Linked DNA regions of Homo sapiens: all the other regions are linked to region 3. The links come from fine-mapping of genetic effects on gene expression. A gene starts in region 3. Each other region holds a variant in brackets. All regions are shown on one strand. Distances are from middle to middle. Region 1 overlaps SYN1 (synapsin I). Region 2 overlaps SYN1 (synapsin I). Region 3 holds the start of TIMP1 (TIMP metallopeptidase inhibitor 1).

Evidence for each region. PIP is the estimated chance that this variant, and not a neighbour inherited with it, causes the effect.
Region 1: its variant is fine-mapped to the expression of TIMP1 in whole blood (TOPMed, PIP 0.97).
Region 2: its variant is fine-mapped to the expression of TIMP1 in whole blood (TOPMed, PIP 0.94).

The regions. Positions count from the first base shown.
Region 1 is chrX:47,607,838-47,619,249 of GRCh38, reverse strand. The region is part of intron 1 of SYN1 (synapsin I); the gene reads left to right. Among named protein-coding and RNA genes, the nearest start is that of SYN1, 6.3 kb to the left of the region's middle. The variant G/A (reference allele first, on the strand shown) is at 8,292.
Region 2 is chrX:47,595,293-47,606,704 of GRCh38, reverse strand. It overlaps SYN1 (synapsin I), which reads left to right. Exons shown (of 13, transcript NM_006950.3): 4 at 1,326-1,482; 5 at 1,638-1,727. Among named protein-coding and RNA genes, the nearest start is that of MIR4769, 14 kb to the right of the region's middle. The variant A/C (reference allele first, on the strand shown) is at 3,473.
Region 3 is chrX:47,577,358-47,587,222 of GRCh38, reverse strand. It overlaps TIMP1 (TIMP metallopeptidase inhibitor 1), which reads right to left and starts at 4,787. Exons shown (of 6, transcript NM_003254.3): 1 at 4,749-4,787; 2 at 3,687-3,815; 3 at 2,208-2,287; 4 at 1,892-2,018; 5 at 1,556-1,680; 6 at 434-702. The coding sequence starts at 3,807. The coding sequence ends at 532. It overlaps SYN1 (synapsin I), which reads left to right. Exons shown (of 13, transcript NM_006950.3): 6 at 9,722-9,784. RefSeq lists silencers at 4,830-4,929, 4,990-5,139, 7,470-7,643, a cis regulatory region at 7,257-7,777 and an enhancer at 9,479-9,773.

The DNA of each region.
Region 1 (11,412 bases), 31 kb before region 3:
CTCTCACCTAAATCTTTTTCCTTTAAATTATTAAGCTGGATGCTTCCTCTGTGCCCCGCCCTTGTCGCCCCCCTCCGCCCCTTAAACCTTGATGGATCCAGGGAGCAATTATCAGGCACCTGCTGCGTACCTGTTCCCTACTACCCCTCCCCCAAAAGTCTTTGGCTTCAATATATCCTATGAGCCTTCGAAAACCGAACGTGTCCTTCCTACCCTCCCCAACCCTTGCCCCATAGGCCTTGTCCTCTAATGGATCTTGTGAGCACTTATCTAGTACCTGCAGTATGCCTCATCCAAGAGCCCTTCCCCAAGGCCTTTGATTTCAATGAGGTTTGTGAGCATTCTTTGAGAGCCTGATACTGTCCTGTTCTCCTCAACCCTTGCCCTGAGGCCTTCTCTAATGGGTCTTGTGAGCATGTGTCCAGTCTATGCTATGTGTCCCACCCCAGCTCCGTCCTTAAAGCCCTTTTAAACTATTTAGTAAACATTGAGTACCTGCTGTGTATCCCACCCCAGCTTCTCTCCAAAAGCTTTGCCTTTCATGGATCCTGTGAGTTTTGATTGGATGCCTTCTCTGTGCCCCAACTCCAAGCCCTCTCTCTGAGGGCCTTTTCTCCAAAGGATCTAGGAAGCATTTGTTAAGTGCCTGATACGTGCCGCACCCCCAAACCCCTTCTCAAACAAATCATTTTCCTCCAGTGAGTTCCATGAGCAGTTTTGAACCTTCTTTGTGTGACTCATCTTCAGACCGTCTCCTCAAAGACCTTTCCCTACAGTGGATCTAGAAAACATTTATTGAGTGCCTCTTGTATCCCCCGTTCTCCAGCTACTTCTTCAAAGACCTTTCCTTTGGTGGATCCATCTAGCATTTATCAACTGCCTGCAGTGTGAGCCTTCTCTAAAAGTTCTTTCCTCCAGTGTATTCAGCAAGCATGCATTGACTGGTGCCTGCTGTATACCCCACCCTCAAACCCTTTCTGCAATACCCTTTCCTCCAGTGGCTTCAGTCTGCATGTATTGAGCACTTTCTGCATGACCCAACCTTAGACCTCTCCATAAAGGCCTGTGCCTCCAGTTAATACAGTGCTCAGATATCTGGCACTTGCTGTGTGTACCATTCCAGTCACTCTTTCCAAAGACCTTTTCTTTTAATCACTCCTTGGAGTATTTATGGAGCACCTGCTGTGTACCTGATTGTGTGCCTTCTTCACAAAAGCCTTTTCTCCTATGGATGAAGAATCGAGCTCCCATAGATCAACTTTCTGCACTCCCATTTCCCCTCCCCATAGGACTTTTCCTTCAGGGATGCAGTGAGCCTTGATCAGGTGACTATATGTCCATCCCCAGCCCCACTCCCCAAAGGCCTTTTCTTCTAATGGATCCAGTGAGCATTTATTCCTTGTCTGTCATGTGCTCCATTTTAATCATCCTCCCCCAAAGACCTTTTCTTCCAATGGCTCCCCTGAGCATTTATGGAGTGTCTTCTGTGTGTTCTGTATATTCACACCTCCTCCCCAGAATTGTTTTCTTAACAGTAGATCCAGTGAGCACATATGCAGGACCTGTTGTTTTGGGGAGTACATTCTTCTTCCTTACCCCTAGGAGAGCCTGTTCCAATCACAAGGCCTCTCCCAAGGTCCTTTCCTGTGATAAATCCAGAGCTGAGTTTATAATGATCACCCCTTTCCCACTCCCTTCAGTACCCCTAGGATTCCCTCTACCAACTTTAATTCATACCCCCAAAGGGCTTTTAGTCTATTTAAGTAACACTTACTTAAGTAAACACTTTTACTTAATAGTTTTACTATTGACTTAATTTACTAAATAAATTTAGTAAATTTACTAAATTTACTATTTACTTAATAGTTTTACTATTTAAGTAAACACTTATTGAGCACTTACTGTATAAGTCACTTTCAACTTCCTCTTTCCAAGTCTCTGGAAATCCCTGACCCTGCCTCAAGAGCTCTCTCTCTAGGGGTCTACTTCAGCCTAAATGTATTGAGTACCAGCTGTTTACTGGTTAGATTACCTCTCCCCCAGGAGCCTTTACCGAGTAGCCTTTCTCTCCATTCAGAGCAATTTATTCATTCTGCAGATATTTATTGCATCCTTTCCATGAAAGTGTGGGAGGCATTTATTATGCACCATTATATACTAGGAATAACCCTTCTTCAGCTCCCCTTCCTTCTTTTTTTTCTAAATGCAGGTGTGCTTGAAATCCTCACCTGCCAGCTGGCCTTGCTATACCTTTTCCTCCATGCAACCCCACAATCATTTAATGAGCATTTATCGTATACTACTGAGAACCCTGCGTTAAATGCCTCTTCTCCCCTTTTTGTAGTCCCAATTCCCCCTTCAACAATCTCCATCCTGCCTTTTACACAACACAATCCTGAAAGCTCACAATGTGCACTGTTTTCCATTTATTCTAGCTAGGCCTCTTCCTCCACTTAGTAGCCATCTCCCCAGCTGCCTTTTTCTCCCCGAATTAGTCCAGAAAACACTTATTAATCTCTTACTGTATTATTTTCAAACAGCCACATTATCATCCCTGCAGCAGGCTTCTCCGCTTTTTTCTCTATCAATCTGTAAAGCATTTATGGAGCACGTGCTGTAATTCCTTCACCAACGTCCACTCACCAACGTGTTATCTTCCTGGTTAAGTTTGCTCCATTGAAGTCAGCAAACATCAATGAGGCCTCTGCTGGATATAGGTAATCACCCTCCTTTAGACTTCCGGTCTCCACTCCAGCCCTCCATGCAGGTCCTTTGCGTCTGCTTCCTTCTTTCCATCAAGCATTTATTATCTATGGAATACTGACAAGTCCCTTCCCCTTTCCATAATCACAAATTCAATGTTTTCCATTTTTTCTTTGTCCAGAAAACATTTATTGAGCACCTGCTGAATTCAGTGAAAGATCCATCCCTTCCCCTTCTGCATCTCAGAAGCCCCCCTTTATCCCAGCATCCCCTCCAGTCTTTTCTTCCAGGCAATCTAGCAAATATTTATTTAGTGTCTACTATATGTGGGGTGGGGTGGACAAAGGGACAGAGCCTATGTATGTACGCCAGGCTCAGTGTGGGGAACAGAGACCTGTTTTACCAACTTGCAGACACTCAGAACCACACTAGCTTCAGGGATTTCAGCCCCAAATAAAGCAGGAGTTGTGCAAACTCTGTGATGGAATGTACACCGAAATACAGTCTGACGCCTTTTCCACCAAACCTCACCACCCTCATTCCTTCCTGGGTCTCAATTCCTCTGTGGTTTAAAGTTGAAAACTCTAAGTTGAGACTCATCTCCCCCATTTTGTGGGTAATTTTGTCCTGTGTTTTTCTTTCTTTTTTTTTTTTTGAGACGGAGTCTTGCTCTGTCGCCCAGGCTGGAGTGCAATGGCACGATCTCGGCTCACTGCAACCTCCGTCTCCTGGGTTCAAGCGAGCCTCCTGAGTAGCTGGGACTACAGGCACATGCCACTATGCCTGGCTAATTTTTGTATTTTTCGTAGAGATGGGGTTTCACCATGTTGGTCAGGCTGGTCTCAAACTTCTGACCTCGTGATCCACCCACCTCGGCCTCCCAGAGTGCTGGGATTACAGGCTTGAGCCACCGTGCCCGGCTCTCTGGTGTTTCTCAAACTATGGGTCACCTATTGGCTTATGACCAGCATTTCACTTTCTTCTTGAAGTAGGATAAATAAAAATAGAGAATAACAGAGCATATTGCACATAGTAAATGGAGTTGTTGTTTAGCAAAACATATAATGTTATTCCATTAAGATATACAATCTGTAATGTATATTATATATGACATACGGTATGTAATACATGTGTTATACAATGGCTTTACAGTACATAATACATCTATATGTATATGTTCTTCTTCATGAAATGAAATAAAATAGCATAGAAAAATCAGACTGCATTACACATAGTAAAGGTAATTATCTATTGAAACTTTAATTCCAGTTATGCATATGTATTTATATACATTCTAAATACATATACACATAATATGTAATATACAACATTTTATATGTTACATAATATATAAGACATTCTATATTCTCATATTTGCTGTACAACATATGTGTCTTATATAATACATATATAGGATGAGTTATTATGCAAATACATATATAGTGGGTTATATAAGCTTTATTTCTTACTGTGGCTTCTTTTCTCAGATATATTTCCCTGGAAGCAGACCCCGAGACTCTGAGATTTGCATGCAGATTTACTGGGGAGAGCGCTTGGGAATAACACCTGTGGGGGAGGTTGTGAGGGAAGCAGGATTGTGCAGAGGGAAAAGTTGAGCTGTGATGCAACCACAAAAGAGGCCTCGGCCAATCCTCTGGGGAGCTCTGGCACTGGAATGACCCTTCAGAGTTGTCCCAGTTGAAGCGGGGTGGCCAGGCTTTGAATTCCTATGTCAGTCATTGGCTGTAGGCTGCCCCCTGGGAGGAGGCGTAATCTTGGGTGAGGCAAATCCCTGTTGCAGAGGCCAATGCCCAGTGAGGGACACCTATGAGCCATCAGCAGCGGATAATTCCAGAAGCTGAGGATAGATGCAAAGGTCTGGAACAAGGAGGTAAGGATCTGGGGGGAGCATATAGTCCACACCTTGCACTGCTCCGATCCACTTCCTTCTTATAGTAAGTTCACCCCATTGGGGAACGGCATTTCCAGAATTCTAATCGGTCTTGTTTTCTCAGGGACACTTGAAAGAGCACGGTAGTGAGATGAGCCATAGTCTCTGCTGCTGCAGTTGATTTCAACGTCATAAATGATATTCATCCTCTCCTTCTTTTGTTACCCATTCTAGATTCCCCCCACCCTCAGCTAGCACCACTCTTGGTCTGGGTGGCTCCCATCCTGCAGAGATCCCTGAGCCTTTGGTCCCCATGCCCTTCTCAGGCTGTAGCTGCTGTACAAACAACCACATTTCCCATTTACTATCAAAGTTGAGCAAGGAGTACCAACAGATGCCCAAGTGGATCCCCTGGGTGCCAGACATACTCCTCCCTGCCTCCACTGTGTACCAGCAGCTCTACCTCCTCCTGAGGAGCAAGGTTGGTCACGTCCCCTGCCAAGACAATGGCTCCTTTTTATGTCCCTTGGCATGAGAAACACGAAGTGCCCTGAGGGCAATCATAGCTTACAGTTTAATGGGATTCTTGCTGTGTCCCCTGGTAGCAGTGTTCCCCCTTGGAGAACCAGGACCTCTAACCTTGCAGAGCCCTGAGGGAACAGGAAGCACAATTTCAAAAGTGGATCACTGGGATTGCTGGTAAGCTGGGCCACTCCTTCCTAACCTCTGTGTCCCCAAACCGGTGTATTCTACCTGTTAGGAACACAGCACCTACAATGGCCATTGATTTAGGGTTGACACTGTTTTGGAGGATGGTGCCCATTCTTGCATGATCTCACCTTCAACCTGGGATCTTAGCTGTGGCTGCACCAAATTGTTCCATCATTCCATCAGGCCAGCAGCTCCCGGGTGGCGTGGTGTGTAATACCATCAGTTAATTCCATGGTCATGGGCCCACTTTTGCACCTCCTTTGCTTTGCATTCCTTTACTTTGCTATAAAGTGTGTCCTTTGGTTTGACGCAGTGTTATGCAGGGTCTCGTGCTGGTGGATCAAACGTTATGTAAGCCCTTAGACAGTGAGCTGGCTGAGGTCCTGCAGTAAGAAAAGGCAAACTCAAATATGGAATATTCCAGTCAAAATCGATTACTGTTCTTTGCAGGATGGAAGGGGCCCAATCTAATCAGCTTGCCACAAAGTGGTTGGTTGGCCTTCTGGAGGGATGGTGGCGTGTCAGGGATTCAATGTTAGTCTCTGTTGCTGGCAGATTGGACATTCAGCAGTAACACTGCTGCCCCCACACATAGCTTCTCTCTCTGCTGCTATTGCCACTTATTCATGTGCCCATCTGCTAACACTGGGGTGGCTGATTAGAGCCTGGCTGACATCATCGGGCTGACTCATGCTGTCTACCTGGTTGCCTAGTGTCACTTCCATGGCGCCATGGCAGATGCTGTCTGGTGGGTGTTAACACACGATCCAAAGATCCTCGCTCCTCCCTTTTTTTTTTTTTTTTTTTTTTTTTGGAGACGGAGTCTCGCTCTATTGCCCAGGCTGGTGCTGTGGCACGATCTTGGCTCAGTGCAACCTCCACCTCCCAGGTTGAAGCAATTCCCCTGCCTCAGCCTCCCGAGTAGCTGGGATTACAGGCGTGCGCCACCACGCCCGGCTAATTTTTGTATTTTTAGTAGAGATGGGGTTTCACCACATTGGCTAAGCTGGTCTTGAACTCCTGACCTCAGGTAATCCGCCCACCTCGGCCTCCCAAAGTGCTGGGATTACAGGCGTGAGCCACCGCGCCCAGTCTCACTCCTCATTTCTTGCCCACTCCTAGGTGTCTGCCCACATTTCTGTATCCCAGACCTCTTTGTCTGGATCTTCCAGTCTTTTTATTTCCAGGCCCCTGACCAACCAGCCAAACCATTTACCACTGCCCATAAGTGGATATATGTATTCTAATCTTGAGGCACTTCTCTTTCTGCACAAAGGAGATGAGCAGGTGCACAGCCTGAAGCTCTGCCCACTGGGAGCTCTGCCACTGTCTTTCAAGGCCATTCCAGTTGGGTTATAGTGCAACCACTGCCCATTTTTGGCTTCCACCCACATACTAAGACAACCAATTTGTGAACCAAGCTTAGACCTTTCCCTCTTTCATCAGCTAGTTTTAAGGAGTCCCCTTAGTGAGACAGGCACTAGCACAACAGTGTGGAAGACATGGGGATCAGGGTTACTTACCTGCTCATGCACCTTGCTTGGTTCTGCTTGGGCTCAATCCTGACTGCTGGGCCCACCTGACTTTATTATTTGGCGGGCCCAGCAGGACCCAGCTTATAATGGGAACTTCTGGATGCACAATCATTTGGTGCCTGGTCAAGCATTCTGTCTCTATCAGGGCCCAGCACCTCAATGGGGTGTCTTTCTCAAAAGGCGTAAAATTCTCTGCTGCAGATGGCATGGCTTTGCTCCAGAACCCCAAGGGCCTCCCACTCAGGCTTCCCATAAGCTCCTCACTGCATCTTTCCCCACTACTGACACCTCCAGTATCATAAGATCTGCCAGATCATCTGGCCTAAATGGCAGGACTGCTTGTACCACAGCCTGGACCTGCTGCAGAGCCCTTTTCTGCTCTGGCCCTCACACAAAGCTGGTAGCTTTACATGTCGCCTGGAATATGGGTCAGAGCATTATTTGTGTGTGGGGGACATGCTGCCTCCAGAATGGGAAGAGGCCTCCTAGGTATTGTGCTTTCCTCTTCATGGTGGAAGGTGCGTGATTCAATGCTTTGCTCTATTCTTTGGAGGGGCTGTCCTGGTTTACTGCCCTGGACCACTGGATTCCTAAAAATTTTACTAATGCATCGGTCCCCTGAGTCTTTGTGGAGTTTATCCTCCACCCTCTGTAGTGGATGTGTCTTACCAGGGCAATATGCTCACCCTCTCTTGCTCATCTTGCACAATCAGTATGATGTAATCCATGTGGTGGTCCAGTGTGCTATTCCATGGGATGTCCAGATAGTCCAGGTTTCTCTGGACTATATTATGACACCAGGTGAGAGAGATAGCATAGCCCTACAGCAAGACCATCTATGAATATTATCATCAGTCTCATGTGAGTGTAAACTGTTTCTGATCCTTTTTTCTAATCAGAATAAAAAAGAATGCATTTGCCAAGTCAGCAGCCACCTGCTGTACCTGAGGTCTTATTAATCTGCTCTGGCAATGACAGCGTGTCCAGTATGGCAGGTATAACTAAGGGTACTACTTGATTGTGCTTGCAGTAATCTGCAAGCATTCTCCAGGACCCATCTGACCTCTCCAGGGGCCAGACTGCTCAACTCGATGGAGATAAGATGAGACCAACACCCCTGCATCCTTTAGATCTTTCAATGTGGCATTGATTTCCATCATCACCCATAGGATGCACACAATATTGTTTGTGGTTTATTGTTTTGTTCAGGGCATGGGGGTGTGCGCCATTTTAGAAGCTTCTATTTGGACTTCCCTACTGAAACAGCTCTTATCCCACAGGCTGAGGAGCCCATGTAGGGGTTCTGACAACTACAAAGTATGCCATTGCAATTACGCATTTGTGAACTGAGGAAGTGACCACTGGGTGGGTCTCTAGACCCACCAGACCCACTGTAAGCAGGACCTGGGCCAGGACTCATTTATCACCTTACCACTACTGTGCTTCTCAGC[G/A]TGACTGGTACCACCCTCACCAGCATGTTTCTTATTAATTTCATAAGTTGAGTGTATCCTCCAGGCCTTAATCAGCTGGTGGGTTTTCCAGACTTCAGTAGTATATCTACTCCAACATGTCTGCTTCTTTGAGCCCTTTAATCCTTCCCTGTGCAATCTGCCATGGAAGTTCTGCTTCACTTAGTGTGGGCCATTGTTTACTCCAGGTTTCCAAATACCAGTGTGTTAGTAACACTTCCTAGAGTCCTCGCCAGGGTTTTAAGTTCCGTATCCTGGGAGAGCACACCAACTTCCTGTTCTACCTCCTTCGCCCATTGTCCTCAGGATCCAGTCTCATGCATACCTTCCCAGCTCCTGCCAATACGTACTAGCCAGATTCTTTAGGTTCTTCTACAGATCATTTCTCTCCCTTTGCAAGCCTAGAACCTGTCCAGTCAGGTTTCACTAGGATTTCACCCTAATTTTTGGTCTGGTTTCCAGGAGGGTAGGTGGGGGGTAGACTCTGAGGGGGGCAGGCATTGTCTTACAAAGCACCTGCATCATCCGAGGCCTCTGCATTATCTTCAAGCAGAAGGTCTATATTCTAACTCAGGGGAGTAGTCTACTTCAGCAGGCCCAGTGGATGCAGGTGAGTCTGTAAGTTCAAGGTGTTTAACTGCATCTGCCCAGATATCCCCATCTCAGAGTCCTACTCCTGTCCTATTAGGGACATGAGCATGGCCCAGGAGATGTGCTGGGCCTGAGAAGTCAACTTTCTCCGAAGCTCCGCCACCACGTAGAATTAAATTCTGAGCCTGGCCCTCCCTTCTGTCTGCCCTCTGACTGCAGGAGATGAGGGTTTCCTTAAATGCAGTCAGGGAGATCCTCTGGCTTTCACATTTTGCCTTGAATTCACCCTGAGCATGTCAGGTCTTTCTTCAGCTACTCAATGGCGTTTAGGGAATAGTCACCCAAGTCTGGTTACCATTTCCCTGACATCACTCAAGTTCCAGGGATATTTCACCATCCAGTACATTCCCTTCCACCAGAATCCCATTACAGCCCACCATCAGGAAAAGTCACCGCTACTCCAAAACCCTGGGGGCCTGCGCTGTATTCTCCCACCTGGGAGAAGAAATTCCACACAGCATCTTTTCCTACTACTGACACCTCCAGTGTCATAGGATCTGCTGGATCATATGGCCTAAGTCACATCCTGCTTGCACCACAGCCCGGACCTGCTGCAGAGCACTTTGCGTTGCTACAGCATATCGGAGGCTATCTATGCCCCACCTCCCACTACTGATGGGTCCTCACTGCCATCTGGCTGCTGGGTAACCCAGCTCCAGAATTGCATTAGACCACCCTTGTAGTTTGACTTCCATGGCCCACTGTTTTAGGTTGGGTTCCCTGGAAAAAGACTTTGAGGTGGAGATTTGCATGCAGGAGGCTTACTGGAGTGTGCCATTGGGATCAACACTTGTGAGGAGGGTTGGGTTGAGCAGAGGAAGAGGCTGGCTCAAGATGTAGTTGCCTTAGGGGCCTCCGCTGCTCTTAGGGGGAGCCCTGGGGCTGGGAGGGTCCTTCAGAGTCAGCCCAGATTGAGGCAAGGAGGCTGGCCTTTCTTTCCCTTCATAGACCAGACCATGGGGATGCCCTCATGAAGTAGGTGTAACCTTGGACAAGGCAGTTCCCTGTGACAAGACAATTCCCAGTGGGGACACAGCCATGAGCTGTCAGTAGCTGCCATTCAAGGTACATTGTCCCTGAAGAGGAGGCCTGAGCAGACCACCACAGTATCCAACTACACTTATGGTCAGAAAAGTTTTAGAAACAGTGATACACCCTCATCATCCCCACTCATCAGTTTATAGATGAAAAATGTGCAGGGCTGAGAGAGATTCTCTCTCAACACTTCTGAGGGGATAGTGTCAGCGATGGTGTGTGTGTGTGTGTGTGTGTGTGTGTGTGTGTCAGAGAGAGAGCAAGGAAAAAGAAGTAGCTGTACTTGGGGTCTCTTGCATATGTCAGTCAAGTCACCAGGGTCCATTTGTGCCGTGTGTGTGTGTGTGTGTGTGTGTGTGTGTGTGTGTCTGTCCAAGACCCTGATTGTATGTGTGTCAGTGACCAGTAGCCCTGAAAGTGTCTCTCCCCCTCATCCCCCTTCCATGATAAACCTGATTGAGGATGAGCTTCCATCCCTGGAGCAAGCAGCCTGTTGGCTAGAAATCTTGAGCCTGGGGGAGGAGGCCACCGGAAACCAAGCCCAGCTGGGGACGGGCCCGGGGACAATGACATAGCAGTTCGTGATGTTCCTACTGCTGCTCCCACTCCCCCTCCCTCCTGTTGCTCCCTCTCCTCCTCAGCTGCATTCCTCCCTGCCCCCCATCATTGCCAGCTACACTGGCTTCTCTAGAGCCACCCAGCCTGCACCACTCAATCCACTCCTCCTTATCGGATGCAGCTGCCCACCTATGGCCATTGTGTTTCTCACAGCACACAACCACACATGGTGAATGTGCTCCTCCTTGCGAAAGGGCCAGAGAGCAGAGAGATGCTTCAGGCCACACAGCCAGACACAGGCACTGACATATACACAGGCACTAAAAAATACACAAAAACAGGCACGCTTCAGAGAAATGTAGTTTCTTTCTCTCCTTCCTTCCTTCCTTCCCCTTCCTTCCTTCCCCTTCCTTCCTTCCTTCCTTCCTTCCTTCCTTCCTTCCTTCCTTCCTTCCTTCCTTCCTTCCTTCCTTTCTCTTTATTTCTTTCTCTTTTTTGCCTAGGTCTTGCTCTGTTCCCCAAGCTGGAGTGCAGTGGTGCAATCACGGCTCACTACAGCCTCGACCTCCTGGGCTCAAGCCATTCTCCTGCCTCAGCCTCCCCAGTAGCTGGGACTACAGGCATGCACCACTATGCCTGGCTAGTTTTTGTTTTTTGGGTTTTTTGGAGATGGAGTCTCGCTCTTGTTGCCCAGGCTGGAGTGTAATAGCACCATTTTGGCTCACTGCAACTTCCGCCTCCTGGGTCCAAGTGATTCTCCTGCCTCAGCCTCCCAAGTAGCTGGGAATACAGGCATGCACCACTACACCTGGCTAATTTTGTATTTTAGTAGAGAAGGGGTTTCACCATGTTGGTCAGG
Region 2 (11,412 bases), 19 kb before region 3:
CAGGCTGGAGTGCACTGGCACAATCATGGCTCTCTGCAGCTGCAACCTCTCAGGCTCAAGTGATCCTCCCACCTCAGCCTCCCAAGTAGCTGAGACTACAGGTGCGCACCACCATGCCTAGCTAATTTTTATGTTTTTTGTAGAGATGGGGGGGGTCCTCACTATGTTGCCCAGGTTTGTCTCAAACTTCTGGGCTCAAACAATCTACCTGCCTTGTCCTCTCAAAGTGCTGGGATTACAGGCATGAGCCGCCACACCCAGCCTTCAATTATTAATTAAATAAACATTTGCTAGACATCTGCTGCATGCCAGATGCTGCTCTCAGGACTTCATATTCAATAAATATTTATTGTACACCTACTGTGTGCCAGGAGATATTCTACATGCTGAAAGGCCAAAAAAAAAAAAAGAAAAAGAACCTGGGCCTTATGAAACTTACATTCTACTGTGAGATACACACAATACACAAATAAATAAGAAAATGTAAAAGTGCTAAGAAAAAACATAACAGTGGCCGGATGTGGTGGCTCATGCCTATAATCCCAGCACTTTGGGAGGCCAAGGTGGGTGGATTGCTTGAGCCCAGGAGTTCAAAATCAGCCTGGCCAACATGGTGAAACCCCGTCTCTACTAAAAATAAAAAAATTAGCCAGGCGTGGTGGCAGGTGCCTGTAATCCCAGCTACTCGGGAGGCTGAGGCAGGGAAATCGCTTGAACCCGAGAGGCGGAGATTACAGTGAGCCATGATTGCTCCAGCGCCTGGACAACAGAGCAACAGTCCGTCTCAACAGAAAAAAAAAAAAGAAAAAAATATATATATAGCACTAAAGCAGATGTAGCAATTGTTGGATGATGGTGGGGTCTGCAGTTGGGATAGGGTGGCCTGGTTGCAGGAGAGACATTTGAGGAAAGACCTGATGGAGGTGAAGGAGTGATCCATGCAGATATCTAGGGGGGAAGTGCTTTAGGCAGATGGAACAGCCTTGGTAAAGGTCCCAAGGTTAGAATTTATTCTGGGCAGAACACTGAAGACAGCTTGCAGTCTGAGAGATGGTGACCAGGGAGTTGTCAGAGCTGTGTCGGTAAGCTGCAAGCTGACCTTGCTGAGAAGGGAACAGGTAGGAGAGGCTTAAAGGGGATCACCAGGTGGGCAGAGGGTAGAAAGGGTGCACTAGGCAGAGGGAACAGCTCACACATGTGTGCAGAGGTGAGAAACCACTTTGCAATTTCTGGGAGCTATGGAGATTTAAAAACTTGGTCTTTGTTTCGAGAGTGATTGGGAGCTTCTGGGGGAACTCTCAACACTCCTACCCCTGCCACACTAGGTCTCTGAAGCCGGATTTTGTGCTGATCCGCCAGCACGCCTTCAGCATGGCACGCAACGGAGACTACCGCAGTTTGGTCATTGGGCTGCAGTATGCTGGAATCCCCAGTGTTAACTCCTTGCATTCTGTCTACAACTTCTGTGACAAGCCCTGGGTGGTAAGTAACAGGAAGGGTGCCACTGGCAGAGGGAACAGCTCATGCATGTATGTGGGAGCTTGAAACCAGTCTGCGATTTGGGGAAGTGAGGGTGTTCAGAAACTTACAGATTCGTGGTGAAGGACTCACTGACCCAGCTCTCCTGGTTCTCATAGTTTGCCCAGATGGTTCGACTGCATAAGAAACTGGGGACAGAAGAATTCCCTCTAATTGATCAGACCTTCTACCCCAATCACAAAGAAATGGTGAGTTTGGGGAAAATAGAGTGGGCAGGAGGGAAGAGTCATAACTACTGCAATAATATTAAATATTGGTATATTATCAGCAGTGCGATATCAAGAGTGTGGCTGCTGTGTGCACGTGGAGTCATGAAGTTGCTTTGTGATAGGGTCTACCGTGAATTTCCTTATGCTTACAAGGAAAACTAAATCATGATCCATTCTAATATGTATCAGATCCTGTTACTCATGTTGTCTATTTTTGCCAGTATTAAAAACCTATTTCTAATGTGAATTGACAGAATTAATGTAATGAATCAGAATATATTACATATAGAAATTAAGTCATTATTACTAACATTATCAAATATTCCTTCTGATAGAAATTTTACCTATATTCAAATTAGGATTGCCAATAACATTTATCAATAATAATGTTATAAATTAAATTGTTGGCAAGGCACGGTGGCTCATGCCTGTAATCCCAGCACTTTGAGAGGCTGAGGTGAGCAGATCATGAGGTCAGGAGATCAAGACCAGCCTGGTCAACATAATGAGACCCCGTCTCTACTAAAAATACAAAAATTAGCTGGGCATGGTGGTGCGTGCCTGTAGTCCCAGCTACTTGGGAGGCTGAGGCAGGAGAATCACTTGAACCCGGGAGTTGGAGGTTGCAGTGACCAGAGATCACGCCACTGCACTCCAGCTTGGGCAACAGAGTCCCACCTCAGCCTCCCTCCTATTAATTAATTAATAGAAATTGAACTTTTGGTTACTATTATGAAATATAATCACTGGCCGGGCGCGGTGGCTCATGCCTGTAATCCCAACACTTCGGGAGGCCGAAGTGGGCGGATCACCTGAGGTCGGGAGTTTGAGACCAGCCTGACCAACATGGAGAAACCCTGTCTCTACTAAAAAAATACAAAATTAGCCCGGCGTGGTGGTGCATGCCTGTAATCCCAGCTACCTGGGAAGTTGAGGCAGGGGAATCGCTGGAACCCGGGAGGCGGAGGTTGTGGTGAGCCAAGATCACGCTATTACACTCCAGCTTGGGCAACAAGAGCGAAACTCCATCTCAAAAAAAAAAAAAAAAAATATATATATATATATAATCACTAATATTACAAATTATCACTAATATTATAAATTATTTTTACTGTTGTAAATTATGAGTACCTATGTCATGAATTAAATTATAGTTTCTAGTAGAAATTGAATAATCATTACTAATAGCATCAAAGATTATTGCTGTTATTACAAATGATTATTGCTATTACAAATTATGCTCTAATATAAATTATAAGTACCTGTTTTGACTTACATAAACATGGCATGCAGTGGAGACTACCACAGTTGGGTCATTGGGCTACAATGTGCCAGAATAAAATATGCTGAACGTTTAAATAATAGAAATTGAATTATCATTGCTAATATCATCAAATATAACAACTAATATTACAATGCATTACAGTGTTACAAATTAAGTTTATTACTATAAATGATTAGTACTTATGTTGTAAATTGTTATAATTATTTTTTAAAAATTTAAACCCAAAGTGGGAGGATCTCGTGAGCCCAGGAGTTTGAGACCAGCCTGGGCAACATAGCGAGACCCCATTTCTACAAAAAATTTAAAAATCAGCCCGGCATGGTGGCATACACCTGTAGTCCCAGCTACTTGGGAAGCTGAGGTGGGAAGATTGCTTGAGCCCTGGAGGTTGAGGCTGCAGTGAGCCATGATAGCACCACCGCATCCCAACCTGGGCAAC[A/C]GAGTGAGACCCTGTCTCAAAACATTAAATAAATAAGTAAATAAAATTAAACCATTAGTACAAACAGTGTAAAAATTTTTACAGATATAACTATTACCAGTGTTACAAATTAAGATTACTAATATAACCCATGAGTACCTGTGTTTTGAATTATCTTGTAGTTCCTAATAGAAATAATTACTAATATGGTTAACATTCTAACTGCTATTATAAAAAAAATCACTAATATTAAAATTTTGATTACTAATATAAATTATGAGTACCACAGTTATGAATCAAATTTTAGTTACAAATAGAAATTAAATAATTGTTACTAATGCAATCAAATTGTATAAGTAATTTTGTCAATTTTTACCAATATTACAAATTATGTTTACTCATATAAATGATCATCACCAATTTTATGACTAAAATTACAATTAAATATAAATATTGACCCAACACTATCAACTTGATTAAATAAACATTGCTACTAATATTAGCAATTCTTACCAGTACTACAAATTATGATCACTGATATACGTCAACAGTGTTGTAAGTTAAGTTTACTTACAGATAAAGATTGAATCATTAGTTTTTCTTTTTTTTTTTTGAGGAGGAGTCTCGCTCTGTCGCCAGGCTGGAGTGCAGTGGCACAATCTCAGCTCACTGCAGCCTCCGCCTCCTGGGTTCAAGCGAATCTCCTGACTCAGCCTCCCGAGTAGCTGGGACTACAGGTGCGTGCCACCACGCCCAGCTACTTTTTGTATTTTTAGTAGAAAAGGGGTTTCACCATGTTGGCCAGCATGGTCTCAATCTGCCCGCCTCGGCCTCCCAAAGTGCTGGGATTACAGGCATGAACCACCATGCCCGGCTTGAATCATTAGTTTTAAGGAAACCCAATTTGTTTATCATTATTATTAGTCTACATTCTTTGAGAGACAGTAGAGCAGAATGTGATTAAGAGCATGGACTCTGTAGCCAGAATTTCTGTATAAGAATCTTACCTCCACAACTTATTAGTTGCTTAACACAGGAAAAGTTACTTAAACGCCCTGTACCTCAGTTTATTCATCTGCAAAATGTAGGTAATAATAGTTCCCGCCTCATATAGTTGGTGTGAGAATGAAATTACTTAGTAAATGTAAGGTGTCTAGAACAATGCATCTGGCATATATTAACTGCTACCTCAGTGTTGACAAATTTCTCCTTCTATTCTTAGTTGGTTGAGTATTTTTGTCGTGAAAGGATGTTGGACATTGTCAAATGCTTCTTCTGTGTTTATTGACATGATTGTGTGAATTTTGTCCTTTATTCTATGAATATGGTATGTAGTACATTAATTGATTTTCATGCAAGTTGATACGTTCATAAGTTTGTTTATGATGTGTCTAGGTGTAGACATTTGCATTCCTAGGCTAAATCTCACTTGGCCTTGGTATAAATCCTTTTTGTATGTTGTAGGATTTAGTTTGTGATTATTTTGTTAAGGATTATTGTATCTATATTCGTAAGAGACATTGCTCTGTAGTTTTCTTATGATGTCTTTTTCTGGTTTTGGTATCAGGATAATACTGGCCTCATAGAATAAGTTGGACAGTGTTCCTTCTTCTATTTTTGGGAAGATTTTGTGAAGATTGGCATTAATTTTTTTTCTTTTTTTGAGACAGGGTCTTGCTGTGTTGCTCAGGCTGGTCTTGAACCCCTGGGCTCAAGCGATCCTCCTGCTTTGGCCTACCAAAATGCTAGGATTACAGGTGTGAGCCACCATGCCTGGTCGGTATTAATTCTTTTTAAATGTTTAGTAGAATTCACCAGTGAAGACATCTGGTCCTGGGTATGTCTTTGTAGGAAGTTTTACTTATTCCTAAATCAATCTCTTCACTTGTTATAGGTCTATTGAGATTTTCCATTTCTTACTGAGTCAGTTTTTGTAGTTTGTGTCTTTCTAGGAATTTGTCCATTTCATCTAGGTTTTCTAACTTACTGGCACATAATTGTTCACAGTACTCTCTTATACTCTCTTATAATACTTTTTATTTCTGTAAGGTCAGTAGTATGTCCACTCTTTCATTCCTGATTTTAGTAATTAGAATTTTCTGCCCTTTTTTATTCTTAGTCTAAAGGTTTATCAATTTTATTGATCTTTTCAAAGAACCAAATTTTTGTTTTATTAGTTCTCTATTTTTAAAATTCTTTATGTCATTTATTTCTACTCTTATTATGTTTTTCCTTGTGCTTGCTTTGGACTTAGTTTGCTCTTTTCTTTCTAATTTCCTAGAAAAAAATGGAAGATTAGGTTACTGATTTTGATATCTTTCTTCTTTTTAGATATAGGCAGTTACAACTATGAATTCTCCTTTAAGCACCACTTTAACTGCATCCCTTACATTTTGATATGTTGTGTGTTCATTTTCATTCATCTCAAAGTATCTTCTAATTTCACTTGTGATTTCTTCTTTGACCTATTGGTTATTTAGGAGTGTGTTACTTTCCACATATTTGTAAATTTTTCAAATTTTCTTCTGTTTTTGATGTCTAATTTCATTCCATTGTGGTCAGAGAACATATTTTGTATAATTTCAGTCCTTTTCAATTTACTGAGATTTGTTTTCTGGCTTAACATATAGTCTGTCCTGAAGAATGTTCCATGTGCACTGAAGAAGAATGTGTATTCTGCCATTGTAGGGTGAAGTGTTCTATAGATGTTTATGAGGTCTAATTGGTTTATAGCATTTTTCAAATCTTCCTTATTGGCCATGCACAGTAGCTCACACCTCTAATTCCAGCACCTTGGGAGTCTGAGGCGGGTGGATTGCTTGAGTGCAGGAGTTCAAGACCATCCTGGGCTACATGGCAAAACCCCAACTCTGCAAAAAATACACATGCACACACAAAAAGCCACATGGTGGCACACGCCTATAGTCCCAGCTACTCAGGAGGCTGAAGTGGGAGGATCACTTGAGCCCAGAAAGTGGAGGTTGCAGTGAGCTGAGATTGCACCACTGCACTCCAGTCTGAGTGAGACCACGTCTCCAAAAAAAAAAAAAACTTCCTTTTTGGTTCCCTGTCTAGTTGTTTTACCCATTTCTTTAAATGAGATATTGAAGTCTTCAGCTATAATTGTTGAATTGTCTATTTCTGTCTCCAATTCTGCCTGTTTTTATTTCATATATTTTGTGCTGTGTTGTTAGGTGCACATATACTTATTATTGTTAAATCTTCTTGATGGATTGACCATTTATGCTTATAAAATATTTTTCTTTATCTCAAGTAACAATTGCTGTTTTAAATTCTATTTTACCTCATATTAGTATAGCTATTCCAGCTCTCTTTTGGCTATTGTTTGCATGGTAAATCTTTTTCCATCCATTTACTTTCAACTTATTTGGGTCTTTGAATCTAAAATGTGCCTCTTACAGATAGCATATAATTAAGTCACGTTTTTCATCCACTGTGCCTATTAACCCTTTACCGTTTGTGCTGAGAACACTCTCTGATGGCACTTGCGGCTGCAGTGTTTACCCTGAGATAACTTTGCCACAAACTGTCTCATTTTTATTATTATTTTCACATCACTCTAGTATATCGACTTTGGAAACAAAAGACATCATTCTATTTATAGCATTCTGTTTTTAGGAGTGGTATTTCCACTTACAAAATATAGTAATTCTCAATCATTGAAAATGTCAAATCCTAGAAAATGTAACATCCCTACAAATGATGTTAACATCGTTCTTGAACAGTCGTTGGATGAAGAATCATTTGATGAATCTGATTTTTCCAAAATAGATGGTTCTGATGATTCAGATGATTCTGATGATTCAGATGATTCTGATGTTAGTTCAGCTTAGAAATAACTCCAAGAATAGTTTTTATATTTTGTTTTGACATTGAAAATCAGTTAGCTTTGCTTCAGCCTCAAAGAGCATGTTTATATAAAATCTAGTGAGCACAGGCAGCAAGCTGCACGTTTTTTTTTCCTAAACAGGAAAAGGGTTAATCGCAGTGTTTAATTAACTTATGTTATTGTAATTCCTGATAAGGTAGGGTTTATGTTTGCAATTTTGCTATTTGTTTTCTATATCTTATTTTTTGTTCCTGTATTCCTCTAGTAATGCCTTCTTTTAAGTTAAACAGATATTTTCTAGTGTACCATTTTTAATTTTTCTGTTATTTCTTCCCTATGTCTTTTATTCATTTTTTTAATTTAAAAAATTTTTATTTTTTTTTGATACAGGGTCTTGCTCTGTCACCCAGGCCAGAGTGCCATGGTAGGAACATGGCTCATTGCAGCCTCAACCTCCTGGGCTCAAGCTACCCTCCTGCCTCAGCCTCCTGAATAGCTGGGACCACAGGCATGTGCTATCATGCTCAGCTAATTTTTAGTTTTTTATTTTTTATTTATTTATTTATTTATTTATTTTGAGACAAAGTCTCACTCTGTCACCCAGGCTGGAGTGCAGTGGCACGATCTCGGCTCACTGCAACCTCCACCTCCTGGGTTCAAGCAATTCTCCTGCCTCAGCCTTCTTAGTAGCTGGGACTACAGGTGCCTGCCACCACACCCAGCTAATTTTTTTGTATTTTAATTGAGGCGGGGTTTCACCATGTTGGCCAGGCTGGTCTCGAACTCCTGACCTTGTGATCTGCCCACCTTGGCTTCCCAAAGTACTGGGATTACAGGCGTGTGCCACCGCACCTGGCCAATTTTTAATTTTTTTGTAGAGACAGGACCTTGCCATGTTGCCCATGCTGGTCTCAAACTCCTGAGCTCAAGTTACCCACCTTGGCCTCCCAAAGTGTTGTGATTACAGGCATGAGCCACTGCACTTAGCCTGTTTTTTTTTTTTCTTAGTTGTTTCCTTGGGTATTACAATTAACATCATTATTTATATTACTCCAATTAGAATTAATACCAAATTAAGCTCAGTAATACAAAGAAATTGCCTCTATATAACTTTATTCCTTCATCCCTCCTTTGTGCTATTATTGTCAAACAAATTACATCTTTACACATTGTGTGCCCATGAACATAGTTATAGTTATTGCTTTATGCAGTTGTCTTTTAAATCAGGAGTAAAAAAGTGTTACACGCAAAAAAATGCATTTATACTGTCTTTTATATTTACCTATGTAGTTAACTTTACAGGTGCTATTTATTTCTTTATGTAGATTTACATTACTAGCTAGTATCATTTTATTTCACCCTGAAGGACTCCGTTTAGCATTTTTTGTAGAAGTTTGTTAGTGATGAACTATCTCAGTTTTTGTTTATCTGTGAATGTCTTAATTTCTCCTTCATTTTTGAAAGATAATTTTGCTGGATGTAGAATTCTTGTTTGGCAGTCTTTTTCTTTCAGTACTTTGAATATGTTGTCCTACTGCCCTCTGACTTCAAGATTTCTAATGAGAAATTAGCTGCTAATCCTATTGAGGATTCCTTGTATATGATGAGTTACTTCTCTCTTACTTTCAAGATTCTCTCTGTCTTTAGCTTTTATAAGTTTATGATGTGTCTGGGTGCCTATCTCTTTGAATTTATCTTAGTTGGAGTTCAGTGCACTTCTTGAATGCATAGATTAATGCTTTAAATCAAATTGGGGGGATTTTTAGCCATTATTCCTTCAAATAGTCTTTCTTGCACCTTTTTTTCTCTCTTTTCTCTCTCCTTTTGGGACTTCCATTATGTGGGTGTTCATATGCTTCATGGTGTTCCACAGACCTCTAGGACTGTGTTCATTTTGTTTACTTTTCTTCTTCCTGTTCCTCAGATTGGATCATCTCACCTGACCTGTCTTCAAATTCACTGATTCTTTACCCTGCCAGCTCAAAGCTACTGTTGATCCCCTCTAGTGAATTTTTCATTTCAGTTATTATGCTTTTTATCTCCAGAATTTCTTTTTTTTTTTTTTTTTGAGATGGAGTTTCACTCCTGTCACCCAGGCTAGAGTGCAATGGCACAATCTCGGCTCACTGCAACCTCCACCTCCCAGGTTCAAGCAATTCTCGTGCCTCAGCCTCCCGAGTAGCTGGGATTACAGGCACACGCCACCATGCCTGGATAATTTTTGTATTTTTAGTTGAGAGGGGGGTTTCACCGTATTGGCCAGGCTGGTCTCAAACTCCTGACCTCAGGTGATCCACCCGCCTCAGTCTCCCAAAGTGCTGGGATTACAGGCATGAGCCACCATGCCCGGCCCAGAATTTCTTTTTCATGTAATTTCTCTTTATTGATACTCTCTACTTATTAGGATATCATTTTATCCTTTCCTTTAAGTTCTTTAAACATAGTTTCCTTTAGTTCTTTGAAAATATTAAAAATCACTGATTTACAGTTTTTGCCTATTAAGTCTAACATCTGGGTTTCCTCAGGGATAGTGTTTGACTGCTTTTTTCCCTGTGTTTGGGCCACACTTAATTTTGTTTCTTTGCATCTCTCATACATTTTTGTTGAAAACTGGACATTTAAATAATATAATGTGGCAACTCTGGGAATCAGGTTCTCTCCCCTCCTCAGGATTTGTTTTTATTGCTTTGTTTTGTTTTTAGTGACCTTCCTGAACTAATTCTGTAAAGCCTGTGTTCTTTGTCATATGTGGCTACCCAAGTCTCTGCTCCGTTAGCTTAGTGGTCAGCTAATGATTGGACAGATATTTCTTTAAATCACCTGAAACCAGTAAGTCTCCCAGACTTTGCTGATGGGCTCTATGTGCATGTCAGGGTGTGCCTTTAATGCAAAGGCAGGCTGTTTACAACTTTGCCTTATCCTTCATTTCCTGCTTGTGCAGAGTTTTGAGGTCAGCCAGAGATCCTAGGCATACATACAGCCTTATGCGTATTTGTGGTTTTCTAGATTCCCAGGCATATGTCAGAGCTTTTTAAAGCCTAATAATGGACTGATAATGGATATATAATTACCTAGATTTTCCTTTTAAGTTTTCTTGAAAAGCTTGTTGTTTTTTCCTAAATGTTATCACTGCTGTGTTAAACAGTTGCTGCTAATTGTTTCTGAAAAGCACCCCCAGAGAAAGCTGTTTATACCAGATGAGCCCCATGAGTGGAGTATTCAGGATAGTGCCAGACAGATCAAATAAAGACAGTTCTCTGGAAATGAGATTTTGGAGGAACTCCAACCCTGTTCTGCCTCCTCCAATGGTTGCTAGTCTGCTGGTTTTCACTGGAATTGCAGGGCTGTTGATTTTCAAGGCTCTTGTGGAGGTGAGGAGAAGGGGATGTGTACAAGAGAAGTTCAAATGCCACAGCTTCCTGTTGTTACCAAGATTCAGCCATTTTCTTGAAAAAATGCTTTCTGAATTGTAAACCTTGGTCAATTTCCAGAGTTCTGATAAGTTTGTTTTGACAATTTTTGCCAGTGTTCTCATTGCTTTTAAGCAATTTTAAGGAGGAGAAGACAGGCTCTTACATTTCTGCTGACATCACCTCCAGGCATATCTTGTTCTTTCCCGGCCCCAGCCCAAAGATAATAGTATTTCAAAGCCAAGATCTGGGAACTAGATTTACTCATTGCTACTGGAATGTTCTTGCTTCAAGGCCCTCTCATTGTACACAGCTAGGACATTTCATTTCTTTATGTATATATATATAATTTCATATATGTGTATATATAAAATTGTTATATGTGTGTGAGTAGAAGAATCAAACTGTTTTTTCTTCTGCTCTCACAATACCATGTGTGGAGGCTTTTACACACACACCAAGAAGCAATTAATTCTGCAGCAAATTAATATACCAGCTGGATGTCCTGCAATTCAATTCTGACACTATCTACCTGGAGGATAGCATCAGATCACACAGGTTAAGGGTGTAGTCCCACAGGACTAAGCCCTACTTCTAATGCTGATGGCAAGCCCCAGGTTATTTTACCTGTGCTTCTGACCAACTAGCTATAAATCGGGGTCCACAACCCCTTCCTCAGGTTCAATTAGTTTGCTAGTGTG
Region 3 (9,865 bases):
ATCAGGACTGTGCTTGAGGCAATGATAGTCATTTGCCAATTGGTAGGGCATTTGTCAATGACTCTGTCAGCTGGCAAGATGTGTGAATGGGGAATTTCCAGTAAGGCAGTGATTTGTCAGCTGTGGGATAATTTATAACTAGAAAGCCCTGGGCAAATAGCAATTAGGAATCAGTATAGGAAAATGTTTTAAAGTATTGGCTGGAGAAATTATTCAGAGGTTACGGTTGATAATGCAGGTTCAGTGACCATTGCTGCTGTTGCAGATCATCAGTGCTAATGCCAATGTTGAGAATTACTACCAGTACATCAGAATTTAAGTAAAATATAAAAACCCAACATTTGGCATCCCTCATCCCCACTGGTCCCAGGGTGCTCACACCAGGTCATCAGCAACATGGGTTTGTTCCCAGGCACTACACAGAAACAGTGTCTGCTGGGTGGTAACTCTTTATTTCATTGTCCGGAAGAAAGATGGGAGTGGGAACAGGGTGGACACTGTGCAGGCTTCAGCTTCCACTCCGGGCAGGATTCAGGCTATCTGGGACCGCAGGGACTGCCAGGTGCACAGCCCTGGCTCCCGAGGCAGGCAGGCAAGGTGACGGGACTGGAAGCCCTTTTCAGAGCCTTGGAGGAGCTGGTCCGTCCACAAGCAATGAGTGCCACTCTGCAGTTTGCAGGGGATGGATAAACAGGGAAACACCTGGAAGGGAGGAGGGAAACATCTCTGAGGGCTTCTCCCTGCCTCCCCCGTGGAGCAGAACTTCCTCTCCTCAGCTTTCAACACTGAGCCGCTGGGGAGACTTGCTCTCACCCCACCTAAGTACATACCCCAGGACAGCCCCTCCCATTGAGGGAAATGTCACTGGGTCCTGAAAGGTAACAGTAAGCCAGTAAATCAGTGTCCTGGAATGGTGGCTGGGGAATAGGCCCTGGGGGTCAGTCAGGCAGGTCGCCTGTGGAATTGTCCCAAAGGACAGGGAAAAACTGGCAGTAGTAAGGGGCCCCACCCGGTTGGCGGCTAAGGAGTTTAAGCACAGGAATAGCCAGTGGGGCTTCAAGATAGTCACTGGGCTCAGAGGCCATCAGGAGCCATCAGGGAACAGGCTTGGACTAGCCAGGAGGTCAGTGTAACACCCTCTGGTGTCTGGAATAGTCAGAGCTGCAGAGCAACAAGCAGATGTGCTGAGGAAGGGTCAGTGGGATTAGGGAACAGCACTTTGGGTTCTTGGAGAACATTCTGGGGAACCAAGAAACAATCCCGGGGGCTCAGGAACGGGGAGTGGGATTACAGAATAGTCACAAGGGAGAATTAGAGGGACCAGGGAGGGACAGGTGATCACACGGTATTGGACACAGGGAAAGGGAGCAGCCAGAATTTGTAAGGGAGCAGTCTCGGGCTTGGGGAAATAGCAAGAGAGATCAGGGACAGCCCTTAGGGTTGGGGAGCAGCCACAGGGACACAGAATAGCCAGAGGGAGCAAGAAACAAGCCCACGATTTAGGGAATGGCCCCGGGAAGGATCTCCCGTTGGAGGTCAGGGTCCAGGCACTCACTGTGCATTCCTCACAGCCAACAGTGTAGGTCTTGGTGAAGCCCCGGCGCTGAGCTAAGCTCAGGCTGTTCCAGGGAGCCACAAAACTGCAGGTAGTGATGTGCAAGAGTCCATCCTGCAGTTTTCCTAAGGAGAAAGGCGGGGCGGGGACCGACAAGCAGCTTGTGATTGGCTGAGCTGCCAAGCTGCCAAAGGCCCGGCCTTCTGATAGACTGAAATTGGGGTGGTCCCCATTTCCAGTGGGACCATTCCCATCAGAGCCTCGCCCCCTCGTGGTTGCTAGGCCGCGCCCCAGGGACTGGTTGGTGTGGCACAGGGCGCGGGGACGGTGCCTCACCAGCAATGAGAAACTCCTCGCTGCGGTTGTGGGACCTGTGGAAGTATCCGCAGACACTCTCCATGGCGGGGGTGTAGACGAACCGGATGTCAGCGGCATCCCCTAAGGCTTGGAACCCTTTATACATCTGTTGATGGATGAGGGGAAGTGTCTCTTTTACTGACATAATCCTCCCACTCCAGGTTCTTCCCTGAAGTCATATAGCATCCCAAGATCACAGCCAACTTTCTCGCACCAACCAGTGGCCAGAAGTTTCTGTTTTGACCAGGAGGAAGATGTTAGAAAATGCTGGGAAAGAGGCGGGGGCAGGGGATACCTTGGTCATCTTGATCTCATAACGCTGGTATAAGGTGGTCTGGTTGACTTCTGGTGTCCCCACGAACTTGGCCCTGATGACTGCAGGAGAGGAGGGAAATATGAGTCAAATGGACTGCATGAGCCAATAAAAATAAGATCATCATCATCATCATCATCATACCAGCAAAGCGCATACATAAATAGGGGTTATTGGATGCCAGACAGCACACAAAGTGATTTACACATTTGTTCATTGATTCATCTGTATGTTGAGTGTCTCTCTTTGCCGGGCACTGCTTAAGCCATTTTCATACATTGATTTGTTCATTTACTCCTCAAATATTTGGGAGTGCCCACTGTGTGCCAGACATTGTTCTGGGTGTTAGGGACACAACAGTGAACAAAACACAGAAATCCCTTTCCTTGTGGAGTTCACATTCTAGCCAGGAGGAGACAGGCTAAGAACAAACAAAATAAGGATATGGAATGTTAGACATTAAGTATAATGGGGAATTACAGACCTGGGTAAGGGGCTGACAAAGATTCTTTGCTTGACCAAACTTTACTCAGGCTCCTGAACCTCCTCCTAGGCCCATCTGTGCACTTCCTTGTAAAATCCAGTTTTAGCCGAGAGCCTTGCTAAGTCAGTTTAGCAAGAACCCCTATATTCTATATCTGATCATCCTCAATCTCTGATCATCCTCAATACCTGATCATCCTCAATCTCTGATCATCCTCAATACCTGATCATCCTCAATCTCTGATCATCCTCAATACCTGATCATCCTCAATCTCTGATCATCCTCAATCTCTGATCATCCTCAATACCTGATCATCCTTGCTATCTGACTGGGTTCTTCATCTTCCACCATCCCCCAGGTGATGTCTGATTCCCCTTGGCCTGCCTTCAGCAAGAATCCTGTTACGTCGGTTTAGCCAGAATCCCCCTTACCCCTGATGTTTCTTCTTAGTAATTTCCACCCACAGACCCTCACACTGCTCCTTAGCTACACATTCCCACTGGCCCATGCTATATTCAGTGTTGAGCCCAATCTCTCCCACCGACTGCAAGATCCCATTGCAGTGGTTCCTATACCCATCACCATGGTCCTGAATATGGTCTTCCTTACTGTGTTATAACAAGTATCACTGAATATTTTTCTGTTTAACAGGAGATCAGGAGTACTAAGGGGCAGGGGTTAAAATTTTAAACAGGATGGCCAGGGAAGGCCATCCTGAGAAGGTGACGTTTGAGGCAGCCACCCATGTGGATACCTGGGGGGAAAGTGTACCAGGCAGAGGGAGCAGCCAGCATGCAGATCCTGTGGTGGGCTTGGGCACAGAGTACTCAAGGAAGTGTGAGGATGCCAGTGTGGCTAAAGCAGAGGAAGTGCAGGGGCGAGTGGAATCATTCTAGAGGTAAGTGCCATGGTGAGCCCCACTGGACTGAAAGGGAAACCAAGGCAGAGTGTGTGGGCTGAGTGGGGTGAGGACTCACCGAGGTCGGAATTGCAGAAGGCCGTCTGTGGGTGGGGTGGGACACAGGTGCAGGCCCTGCTGGGGGCTATCAGCCACAGCAACAACAGGATGCCAGAAGCCAGGGGCTCAAAGGGGGCCATGGTGGGTTCTGTGGGGAAGGGGGATGTCAGGCAGGCCCCGGCCCAGCTGATCTGCTGACCTGGGCAGGTCATCCACCCCATCTTGCCCCGGGGCAGCCTATGGGGGGGATTAGGGGGCTGGATTTGGGCTTGAGGGGTTGGTAAGCTTAGGGATTTTAAGGGGATTGGGGAGCGCAGAGGAATTTAGGGTTTAGAGAGTTGGGAGAGTTTAAATTATTGAGGGACTGAGTGAGTTGCGGGGTTATGGGGTTGTGGCACTTGGGGGAGAAGGGGGCTGAGGAAGTTTGAGGAATGAGGGGATTGGGGAATTCTGGAGGTTGAGGAGTTTGGGGGTGAGGAATTTGGGATTGGGGGCTGGAGGAGTTTGGAGACGGCAGAGTTTAGGGGTTGTGTATATTAAGAGATATAAGAGGCTGGGGGAATTTAGGGAGGTTGAGGAATTTGGAGGAGGTTGGGGGTTTAGGGAGCTGGGGGAGTTTGGAGGTTGAAGGGGTTGGGGGAATTTGGGGGCTTAAGGCAATGGGGATACTTGAGGAATTTGAGGGCAAAAGAAGTTTGGGAGCTGGGGAACTGGGGATTGGGGAGCTGGGGGAGTTTAGGGAGCTGCAGGGGTTAGCGGTGGGTATTTAGGGGGCGATGAGGGAAATTTCGGGATGAAGGAATTTGCGGGGGGATTTGGAAAGCATTTGTGATATTAGGGGGTCATGGGTTTGGGGGAATTGGGGGCGGATGTCAGGGGTTCTAGGGAGTTTGGAGCCTCGGGGTTGGGAAAGCAGTTCCAGCCTCCGACCCTCTTCCCCCTAGACTAGCCCAGGGTCCTGGTACCCGCAGGCCAAGCTGAGTAGACAGGCATCTGGCACGGGAGTGCACGGGCCTGGTGGCCAGCACCCAAGCTGCAGCCCAGCTCCGGTCCCTGCTGGGCCACCCCGGGCCCTGCTTACCTCTGGTGTCTCTCTGGGCGCTGGATCTGCGGCGATGGCGGCAGGGCCTGAGCGCTAGAGGATAAATGTCCACGCTAGGGGCGGGGGTGGCAGCGGGTGCGGAAACCACAGGCCTCCAGGCTTCCTGGATGCATTACTCATCCACCCACCATCAGTGCAGAAGCCAAGGGGCGGGCCGACGAAAGGAGATACACCCTCCTCCTCTCCCACCCGCCTCCTCTCCCTCTCCCTGGGCCTCGCCCGGGCCAGCCACCTCCCCCACCTCCACGTCAGTCACTATTCCTTCCAAGCCGCCTCAGCGGAGAGCTTAGAGGCCGCATTTCCCCCGGCCCAGTCCCCTAAAGTCTCCAGAATCTATCCAATCACCCACATCCCCCAAGCTCCCTATGACTCAAACCCAAATTAGTTCAGCCCTTCAACATTTATTGTGCATCTACTGTGTGCCAAGCACACAAAAATCCCTTGTTTTGTATGTCTGACATGCTGGTGAGGGGTGGCAGAGAGGAAACAAATTAAGTAGCAGCAGTGGAGGGAGATAAGGCAGGTGAAAGGGGAGGAATACAAAATGGGGAAACTGAGGCACGGAGTGGTTAAGTGACTTACCCAGGATCACAGAGTCAATACATGGCAGAACTGAGACTGGAACTCAGGTGGCCAGGAGCCAAAGCCAGGGTCTCAAATAACACAGGCAAATAGCCGGCATTTATACAGCACCTACTGTATACCAGGCACTCAGCATAGTTTATCTCACTCAAAGCTCACAACAAATCTCTGAGATGGGTACCGGTTCTTATTCCCGTTTTACGGATGAGGAAATATGGGGCGTAGAGGAACTGTAGAATTTTCCTAAGATCACAGGGCATGGCCGGGATTCAAACAGAGGCTACCTGGCACCAGGGTTGTAACTCAGGAGTGGCACCGTCCTAGCAAGCAGGGAATGGTGCGGGTGAATGAATGAGCATTGGGAAGGGGGTGGCCATGAATGATGGTGAAAGAAGCAAGTGAGTGGGTCAGTAGAAAACTAATCCCCACCCCATCCTGCCCTGCCCCCTCCCCATGGACCTGTACCCCTGGTGGGGGGTGGGGTGGGGCAATCCTTGCCCACCAGCTTTCTGACAATGCAGGAACCTTCCCTGGGGTTCTGATTAACATCCTTAATTCGAGGAGGATAGATCAATAATAATAATTGTAGTGATGATGGCAGCCACTTATTGAGCACTTTCTGTGTACTATGTGCTAAAGTGTTTGTATAAATTATCTCATTCACTCACCATACTCCCTTGCTAATTAAGTTTGATTAACTCAGGGATGATAGCCCAATAACAAGAACACAACAAAAACTACCAGCAGCCCTTATGGAGTGCTTACTGCGTATCCAGCACTATTCTGGGTGGGAGGAATGTGAGGGATGAGAAATTGCCTAATGGGTACAATGTACACTATTTGGTTGATGGGGACACTAAAAGCCCAGACTTCACCACTATGTAATATATCCATGTCACAAAACTGCAGCTGTACCCTCTAAATCTATTTTTTTTTTTTGACAAGAGTCTTGCTCTGTCACCTAGGCTGGAGTGCAGTGGCGCGATCTCAGCTCACTGCAACCTCCGCCTCCGGGGTTCAAGAGATTCTCCTGTCTCAGCCTCCTGAGTAGCTGGGATTACAGCCACACCACCACCACCCCCAGCTAATTTTTGTAGTTTTAGTAGAGACGGGGGTTTCACCATATTGGTCAGATCTCGAACTCCTGACTTCAGGTGATCCACCTGCCTCGACCTCCCAAAGTGTTGGGATTACAGGCGTGAGCCACCACACCCGGCCTTCTAAATCTTTTTTTTTTTTTTAGACAGAGTTTCGATCTTGTTTCCCAGGCTGGAGTGCAATGGCAAGATCTTGGCTCACTGCAACCTCCACCTCCTGGGTTCAAGCAATTCTCCTGCCTCAGCCTCCTCAGTAGCTGGGGTTACAGGCACACGCCACCACGCCTGGCTAATTTTTGTATTTTTAGTAGAGACGGGGTTTCACCATGTTGGCCAGGCTGGTCTCAAACTCCTGACCTCGGGTGATCCGCCCACCTCAGCCTCCCAAAGTGCTGCGATTACATGCGTGAGCTACGGCACCCAGCCTAAATCTATTTTTTAAGAAAGCACTTGGCCGGGCATGGTGGCTCACACCTGTAATCCCAGCACTTTGGGAGGCTGAGGCAGGCAGATCGCTTGAGCTCAGGAGTTCAAGACCAGTCTGGGCAACATGGTGAAACCCTGTCTCTATTTAAAAAAAAAAAAAAAAGCACTGTTCTAAAGTCTTTTTACAGACATTATCTCATTTAATCAATCCCGATTGCCTCTTTGTTCATTAATGTTAGTTAAGGAAGAGATGTTAAGCCAATAATAAGAGTACCCAACACTTCTTGAGGATCGAGGCTTACTGTATGCCCGATACCATGTAGAGCATTTTTCCCAAAATAACTAACTTATTTCTCACAATATCCCTGTGAGTTAGATATAGCTCATGTTCTCATTATACAGATGAGGAAACTTAGACACAAAAGGGCTGAGTGACCTACCCAGGAATGAGAATGAAGAAATGGCTCTGCTGCGGGGTGGTGGGGGGAGGGTGGGGGGGCGACAAAAACAGGGAGGAAGGGAAGTAAACCAAAAAAATCTGTAGGAGCTGATTATGAAAGTGGGACAGTGAGAGTGAATGAGACGGGGCTGAGTAACCTGGTGCCTCCGAGGGAGAAGTGAGGGCAGGGGAAGTCCTGCCTTGGCCCCTCGCTGACTCTGGTTCTGACGCCAACTCTTTGAAACCTGAGTCAGCACAGAGTGTTGCCGACTGTTTACATGAGGAGTCGTGTGGATCCGGTTATTGTGCAGTTTTGAAATGGAGAGTGGGAGGGGTGTTCATGGAGGGGTGTGTGACCATCTGGGGAGCTGGATGGGTGTGGGGGCCCATGGGGGTCCAGGAGGCATGTGCAAAGCGGACACCTGACAATGCCCACAGCATACCAGGTGCTTGGGCCTCATTGTGCTCTTTGTGCAGATGGGGAAACTGAGGCTCAGGGAGAGGTTGTGTCCTTCATGGCCTTAGGAAGAAGAAAGGCCAAAATTCAGACCTAGGGCTTTCCAGGAGCTCCCAGAGTCAGAGTTCAAAGCACTCTGCATGCACACATGTATGGGCACACACACATATACAGAGCGTTGTGTTCAGGCTCAAGTCCAGAGAAAACAAGGACAGTTAACGAAAAGAGGCACCTAGAAACCTCAGGGTTGTTGGGGGAGGTATGGGTGTGTACGCACAGCTCTCTGGTGTGTTGTGTGTCCATTGCTAAGAGTCGAGCATGTGCCTGTGTGTTTTGTGTGTTACTTCTGGGAGTTGTCTACCAGCCTCGGCAAAGCGGATCTGGGTTGCATATGTAACTGAGTGCATTATGCACTTCTGTGTGCTGTGCGCACACCTGGGTGGTACTGTATGCATCCGCCTCGGCATCGTTTCCCTGGCCCGCTGCCCAGAGATGCCCCAAACCCCCGTCCCAACATCGTGCCTCTCAGCCCACCTCATAATGACGCCAGTCATTTGGGAAATGAGGAAGGGGGGGTGTGCAGAGGGAGGCCTTAAGGTCAATCGGTCACCCTGAGTCTGCGGGCTTCCTGTGCCTGTCGGGAACTGGGAACCACCACCGCCCCAGCAGCCCCTCCGGGAATGCCATCTCTCTACCTTGTCAGCGAGAGGGAGGGCCACCAGAGGGGCACTGTGCAGCTGTGCTGTGGGGGTGGGGGTGGAGGGAGCGGGGAGCCTAGGGCCGTCCAACCTGGTTTCCTCTACCCCATCCAGGAGCGGGGGAGACTTGAGGTATCCCTCTCGCCTGAATGTGTGACTGTATGTGTGTTGGGGTGGGAGTGCCCAGGAATGTTTTCTGCAAACTGAGTTGTGGGTGTCTCTGGTTGTGTGTAGCCTCTCTGTATTGTATATGTGGCAAGGCATGTTGTGTGTGTGTCTAGATATACTTTTTGTATGCCCAGGAATGTGGCGTGGGTCTCTTACGGGTCCCAGTGGTGATGTGAATACCTAGAAGTGCATACACCTCTGTGTGTTGTGTAGGGCCTTATTTGCTGTGCATTTGCCTAGGGGTGTTTTATGTGTGCCTGTGTGTTGAGTATGTGCCCGGTTCTGTGGAGTGTGCCTGTGGAGTTGTGTGTCTCTTGATTGGACGGGTAATCTTTTGTGTTGTGTGTGTTCCCCTGATGGTGATGTGGGTTTGGGTGAGGGGAGGGAACCTGGGTGTGTGCCCAAGTATTGATTGTGTGCCTAAGGGTGTCCAGTGTGTGCTGCCCTGGAGTGCTGGCTGCTGACCCACGCTATGGGCACCTGGCTGGCTGAATGACTGTGTGGGTGTCTGTGCTGCTCCAGAGCTCATGTGCTTTGAGCCTGTGTTGGCTGTCAGTCTCAATGTCACTGGCATCTCTGGGTTTGGCGATGTACATCTGAGTTCCAAGGGCTCATGCCTCTCAATAGTTTATGTGTGCAGGTGAGGCTTACATACAAGGTTTGGCTGAGGGGTTCAGTCACTACATGCTCACCACCACTCCCCACCCCCCCCACCCCCACACACACGCACTGGCACACACTTGCCTCACTATCATCCATCCACTGTAAAAACAAACTTTCTTTTTACTGGAACAGTCCCCCACGCTCATACCATGCCTCTGCCCGGGAAAGCAGGGGCGGGACGTCTGGAACTTGTTGGTGGGGTGGAGTGAGGGACAGACAGACAGGGCTCTGGGTTCAATTCTGGGCCCGGAGGTGGAGACACTGTGTGACCCCCAGCTGCTGCCTGCCTGTCTCTGACCTGTGTGTCCTGGGAAGTGACTCATAATGCAGTTCCCACTGGCTGGGATCCCCTCAGTGCCGCCCCACCCCTGGAGGTCACCCTTTCTGCCCTGAGCATGTCTCCTCTGCCTTTTCCCCACCAGCTCAGCAGTACAACGTACCCCGTGGTTGTGAAGATGGGGCACGCACACTCTGGGATGGGCAAGGTGAGTCTCTGGCTGGGCTGTGCATAGGTAGATGTGTATTTGTGCAATGCACACCAGTCATTCTGTGTGATCGCGTCTCCT